Linked DNA regions of Homo sapiens. The protein of the gene in region 2 binds, or shares a complex with, the protein of the main gene of each other region. Each region holds a gene or a part of one and is shown on either strand. Other genes may lie near its edges. A codon is read from its position in the direction of its gene.

Evidence for each region.
Region 1: the proteins of H3C15 (region 2) and ASF1B are in contact, whole or in part, in a crystal structure (PDB 5BO0), measured with the Homo sapiens proteins. Residues at the interface, in NP_001005464.1 of Homo sapiens: Asp107 (codon at 1,866), Leu110 (codon at 1,875), Cys111 (codon at 1,878), His114 (codon at 1,887), Ala115 (codon at 1,890), Lys116 (codon at 1,893), Lys123 (codon at 1,914), Gln126 (codon at 1,923), Leu127 (codon at 1,926), Ala128 (codon at 1,929), Arg130 (codon at 1,935), Ile131 (codon at 1,938), Arg132 (codon at 1,941), Gly133 (codon at 1,944), Glu134 (codon at 1,947), Arg135 (codon at 1,950); in NP_060624.1 of Homo sapiens: Val45 (codon at 376), Ala48 (codon at 385), Ser50 (codon at 391), Glu51 (codon at 394), Asp54 (codon at 403), Thr87, Asp88, Val90, Val92, Thr93, Val94, Leu96, Arg108, Gly110, Tyr111, Tyr112, Asn114, Glu116, Leu140, Asn143, Arg145, Thr147, Phe149.

The regions. Positions count from the first base shown.
Region 1 is NC_000019.10:14,123,090-14,126,589, reverse strand, and holds part of ASF1B (histone chaperone ASF1B), read left to right. Parts: intron 1-352; coding exon 353-468; intron 469-3,500. UniProt on the Homo sapiens protein: Histone chaperone that facilitates histone deposition and histone exchange and removal during nucleosome assembly and disassembly. Cooperates with chromatin assembly factor 1 (CAF-1) to promote replication-dependent chromatin assembly.
Region 2 is NC_000001.11:149,851,108-149,853,625, forward strand, and holds H3C15 (histone H3.2), read left to right. Parts: upstream 1-1,500; 5' UTR 1,501-1,547; coding exon 1,548-1,958; 3' UTR 1,959-2,018; downstream 2,019-2,518. Other genes in the region: H2AC19 (histone H2A type 2-A), read left to right, coding at 7-399. UniProt on the Homo sapiens protein: Core component of nucleosome. Nucleosomes wrap and compact DNA into chromatin, limiting DNA accessibility to the cellular machineries which require DNA as a template.

The sequences.
Region 1 (3,500 bases), on a different chromosome or scaffold from region 2:
TGAGACAGGAGAATCGCTTGAACCTGGGAGGCAGAGATTGCAGTGAGCCAAGATCACACCATTGTACTCCAACCTGGGTGACAAGAGTGAAACTCCATCTCAAAAAAGAAAAAAAAAATTAGCTAGGCGTGGCAGCGGGCACCTATAATCCCAGCCACTCGGGAGGCTGAGGTATGAGAATCACTGGAACCTGGGAGGCGGAAGTTGCAGTGAGCTGAGATCGCATCACTGTATTCTAACCTGTGTGACAGAACGAGACTCCATCTCAAAAAAAAAAAAAAATACAAGAGCCTATCCCTGCCTTCTTGCTGTTGAGCTATTTCAATTAGTTAACCCTCCTATATCTTTGCAGACCTGGAGTGGAAGATCATTTATGTTGGCTCGGCTGAGAGTGAGGAATTTGATCAGATCCTAGACTCGGTGCTGGTGGGCCCTGTGCCAGCAGGGAGACACATGTTTGTCTTTCAGGTAAGAAAGATGAGGCCTTAGGCCTTAGCCCTTGATTCCTAGAAACATCCTCTTTTACCTGAAATCCCACAGAGTGCTTCAGGAATCAAAAGTTCAAGTTCAGCTGGGCACGGGCTCACGCCTATAGACCCAGCTACTCCAGGGACTGAGGTGAGAGGATTGCTTGAGCCCGGGAGTCTGAGGCTGCAGTGAGCCACTGCACTCCAGCCTAGGCAACACAGTGAGACCCTGTCTCTAAAAAAGAAAAAAACAAGTATTAAAAACATAGAGGCCGGGCACAGTTGCTCACACCTGTAATCCCAGCACTTTGGGAGGCCGAGGTGGGAGGATTGCTTGAGGCCAGGAGTTTGAGACCAGCTGGGGCAATATAGTGAGACCGCATCTCTACAAAAAATGTAAAAATCAGCAGAGCATGGTGGTGTGCGCCTGTAGTCTCAGATACTTGGGAGGCTGAAATGGGAGGATCACTTGAGCCTGGGAGATGGAAGCTACAATGAGCCAAGACCACACCACTGCACTCCAGCCTGGGCAACAGTAAGACCCAGTCTCAATCAATCAATTAAAACAATTTAAAAGTTCAGGTTCAAATCCTAGTTCTACTGTCAGGAACTATCTGACCTCTCAGAGGCCGTCAGGCCCTCCCTTCCCCCACCTCTGTGTCAAAGCTGCCACTGATTTACAGGCAATTCCCATTATTTACAAGAGTTACGTTCTATAAAGTTGCCGCGAACACTGAATTAGTGAATACTGAACCATTGCCCCAGGGGAAATACAGGGTTAGATTCTTGGAAGTCACATTTTCGTCAGCTGGTTAATACGTAAACTTGTATGTGTGTTTATGTTGAAAAGACACCAGGACGGCTATGATGGCTCAAACCTGTAATCCCAGCACTTTGGGAGGCTGAGGTGGGTGGATCGCCTGAGGTCAGGAGTTCAAGACCAGCCTGGCCAATGTGATGAAACCCCGTCTCTACTAAAAATACAAAAATCAGCCAGGTGTGGTGGCGCATGCCTGTAATCCCAGCTACTCGGGAGGCTGCGGCGGGAGAATCGCTTGAACCTGGGAGATGGAGATTGCAGTGAGCTGAGATCGCACCAGTGCACTCTAGCCTGGGTGATACAGCGATACTCTGTCTCAGAAAAAAAGGAAAGATACCTTATTTAATATATACAGTGGTTCATTTATGTTGAATTCACAGCCAACAGCACTATAACTCTCCTGAATGAAACTTCTCTAATACGCATATTTTCCATAAAGCCTTTCTTGTATCCTACACTGCACTTCAGCACTACCGTTGGGTGCCATCATAGACAGCAAACTCACCAACAAAAAGCACAAAACATGGAAAAAAGCACTAAGTAGGCTGAGGAAAGGACGCTCATTCACAGTGAGAGCTGAGACCAGAAGACAGAGTGTTGCCTTGTTTGACCTCAGGTGGGAACAGGCGTGGTAGGTAACTCTAGGTGGGAACAGGCATGGTAGGTAACTCCAGTTTTTCCCTGCTCTGTGCATGTCTGCAAGTGACTGTGAAAGCAAGCAGGTGTTCATCTTGGGGTTACAAATAAACTTAGCAGGTAGGTGAACTTGCACATATGGAACCCATGAATAATGAGGATGGACTGTAACTCCTAAATGGCTCTCATGCAGCACCCCACCTGGGTTGTCAAATGTAGATTCTGGCCGGGTGTGGTGGCTTCCAGCACTTTGGGAGGCAGAGGCGGGAGGACTGCTTAAGGCCAGGAGTTCCAGACTAGCCTGGGCCACATAGCGAGACCCCCATCTCTACAAAAAATAGAAAAATTAGCCGGGTGTGGTGGCTTGCACCTGTCGTCCCAGCTACTTGGGAGGCTGAAGCAGGAGGCTTGCTTGAGCCTGAGAGTTTGAGGCTACAGCGAGCTATGATTGCACCTCTGCACTGCATTCTGGGTGACAGCGAGACCTGTCTCTACAAAAAAAACATTAACCAGGCATAGTGATGCAGGCCTGTAGTGCCAGCTACTAGGGAGGCTGAAGCAGAAGACTCACTTGAGGCCAGGTGCCATGGCTCACACCTGTAATCTCAACACTTTGGGAGGCTGGGGCAGGCAGATCACTTGGGGTCAGGAGTTAAAGACTAGCCTGGCCAACATGGTGAAACCCTGTCTCTACTAAAAAATACAAAAATTAGCTGGATGTGGTGGTGCACATTTGTTATCCTAGCTACTCGGGAGGCTGAGGCACGAGAATTATTTGAATCCAGGGGGCGGAAGTTACAGTGAGCTGAGATTGCGCCACTGCACTCGAGCCTGGGCAACAGAGTGAGACCCTGTCTCTAAAAAAAAAAAAAAAAAAAAATAGGCTCGCTTGAGCCCAGGAGTTCCAGGAGTTTACAGTGATCTGTGATTGCACCACTGCACTCCAGTCTGGATGACAGAGGGAAAAGCTATCTCTTTAAAAAAAGAAGGCCGGTGCAGTGGCTCACGCCTGTAATCCCAGCACTTTGGAAGGCCAAGGTGGGCGGATCACAAGGTCAGGAGATTGAGACCATCTTGGCTAACATGGTGAAGCCCCATCTCTACTAAAAAATACAAGAAATTAGCCAGGCCTGGTGGCGGGCACCTGTAGTCTCAGCTACTCAGGAGGCTGAGGCAGGAGAATGGCGTGAACCTGGGAGGCGGAGCTTGCAGTGAGCCGAGATCACGCCACTGCACTCCAGCCTGGGTGACAGTGAGACTCCATCTCAAAAAAAAAAAAAAAAAAAAAGAAGAAAGAAAAAACAAATGGAGATTCTGAGTTCTCCAGGTGATTTTTCAGGATCCTCTGCTCGGATACACTCCCTTACCTCCATCACTGCTGTTACCGCCCTAATCCAAGCTACCACATCCTATCTAACCCCTTCAGCCACCACTACTAAATCCACTGACAGGCCCTATCTACTCAACAGTCAGGACTGGCCTCCTGGGTGTGCAACCCAGGCAGCTGCACAGGACCCCACACTTGGTGCGATACTCTGCTGTCACCGTCTGAAACCTAATAGCTTTTCTGGAGGGGC
Region 2 (2,518 bases):
GCTGTCATGTCTGGTCGTGGCAAGCAAGGAGGCAAGGCCCGCGCCAAGGCCAAGTCGCGCTCGTCCCGCGCTGGCCTTCAGTTCCCGGTAGGGCGAGTGCATCGCTTGCTGCGCAAAGGCAACTACGCGGAGCGAGTGGGGGCCGGCGCGCCCGTCTACATGGCTGCGGTCCTCGAGTATCTGACCGCCGAGATCCTGGAGCTGGCGGGCAACGCGGCTCGGGACAACAAGAAGACGCGCATCATCCCTCGTCACCTCCAGCTGGCCATCCGCAACGACGAGGAACTGAACAAGCTGCTGGGCAAAGTCACCATCGCCCAGGGCGGCGTCTTGCCTAACATCCAGGCCGTACTGCTCCCTAAGAAGACGGAGAGTCACCACAAGGCAAAGGGCAAGTGAGGCTGACGTCCGGCCCAAGTGGGCCCAGCCCGGCCCGCGTCTCGAAGGGGCACCTGTGAACTCAAAAGGCTCTTTTCAGAGCCACCCACGTTTTCAAATAAAAGAGTTGTTAATGCTGGCCACTCTCAGTCCAGCGTTCCTCAGTAGTGAATAGCGAACCTGGAGCTGACGGGACGGGACGGGACGGGACGGGACGGGACGGGGCGGGGCGGGGCGGGGTGTGTGTGTGTGCGCGCCGTCTTCCATCTGGAGCACGTAACTGCCTTGGCTCTTCGATGAGTGGGTCCCCAGTCCTAGGACTTCCCAGGGCAGGTGCAGGCACCAAACGTCCTGGGCGCCGCCACGGTCCGCTCCACACAGTCACAAACACCAGCGCCGCGGGCAGTACCCAACGCGCTGAAGTGTTGCGCGCGGAGCGCGCGCTTCCCTAGTGGTTTCCGCAGGCTATGGCCGGACACTTAGACCTAGTCTGGCACCAGCGGGACGTGCTCCTCGTCCCCACCCCCGATGGGGAGGGCCCTGAGCGGGTAGTGCTCGCTAGTGTGGCGGAGCTGGGTCTTGGCTTCACTGAGCTGACTTAAGTCTTAGTTTCTGTTTTGTTTTCCAAAGCGCCCTGGCGGCGGAGAGTAAGGGCCTCGGAGGCGGAATCTTGCGTCCTGGGGGCGGGCACCTCTCCCACCCAAAAGGCACCCGACAGGCGAAAAACGATCCGCCAAGTAGCAACTGGGGGCGGGGGGCAAATGGAAGAATGAGGTTCCACGCGGGAGCTGTAGGGCGCAGCAAGAAAGGGGGGGTATTGCGGGCAGTGTGTTCTAAGGAAGCGAAGGGCGGAAAGGGAACAATCTGACAAAGCTGCAATGGAAAATGACTTTCACCCTGAAGGAAAGGGGAAAAACAAGCTTGCGAAACTTCGCCAACTGGTAAGTAGAAAGTGAGGCGGGGTGGGCGGGATTAGGGAGGAATCTGCCCAAGCCAACCGGTGACTTTAGGACGGGTGACGTCACAGCCAATGGACAGCCAGCGCGGGATTTTCAATTATTGTTCCGCCCAATCGGGAAAAGACTGTGCTTATAAAGACGGCTGCGGCGGGGCTAGGAGCTCGTTTTTCTCCCCGCCGCTGCGCTGGTAAGCCTGTGTTTTGGTTCGCTATGGCCCGTACTAAGCAGACTGCTCGCAAGTCGACCGGCGGCAAGGCCCCGAGGAAGCAGCTGGCCACCAAGGCGGCCCGCAAGAGCGCGCCGGCCACGGGCGGGGTGAAGAAGCCGCACCGCTACCGGCCCGGCACCGTAGCCCTGCGGGAGATCCGGCGCTACCAGAAGTCCACGGAGCTGCTGATCCGCAAGCTGCCCTTCCAGCGGCTGGTACGCGAGATCGCGCAGGACTTTAAGACGGACCTGCGCTTCCAGAGCTCGGCCGTGATGGCGCTGCAGGAGGCCAGCGAGGCCTACCTGGTGGGGCTGTTCGAAGACACGAACCTGTGCGCCATCCACGCCAAGCGCGTGACCATTATGCCCAAGGACATCCAGCTGGCCCGCCGCATCCGTGGAGAGCGGGCTTAAGAAGTGGCGGTTCGGCCGGAGGTTCCATCGTATCCAAAAGGCTCTTTTCAGAGCCACCCACATCAGCACTTGGAAGAAGCTGTACCGCTTGCCCTCCGTGCTCCTCCGGCATTAGAGCGGGGAAGGCACTTCCGCTTAGGCTCCCAACAAAACGGGGTCGGGTCCCCCTGCTGCGGTGCCGTCTTGAGCTTTGCCGACTTCGGCCAATTGGCCTATCCGCACTGGCCGGGCTGCGGACGCTTTCCTGGGCGCCGGCTCGCGGGCTTTGGCGGTCCGGCTCCCCCCGCGCGTGACCGGGGCCCTGCGTGGCGGGGGGGCCGGGGCAGGAGAGACGGGGCGTCGGGCACGAGGCCAGGGGTCACTAGGGGGACGCTCAGGGCTCGCGGTCCTGAGCGCGGCTGGCCTTTGCGGAAGTGGAGCGCCACACGCCCGTGCTTCGCGCCCAAACCGGCCTCACCCGGCGCGGCCATCCGGCTAGGGAGGGAAATGACCACCTCGGCCTCGCCGGGGTTCTGCGGACAAACGTGGGGAGAACTGCGCTGGGGCTGCCGTTCAGTCCC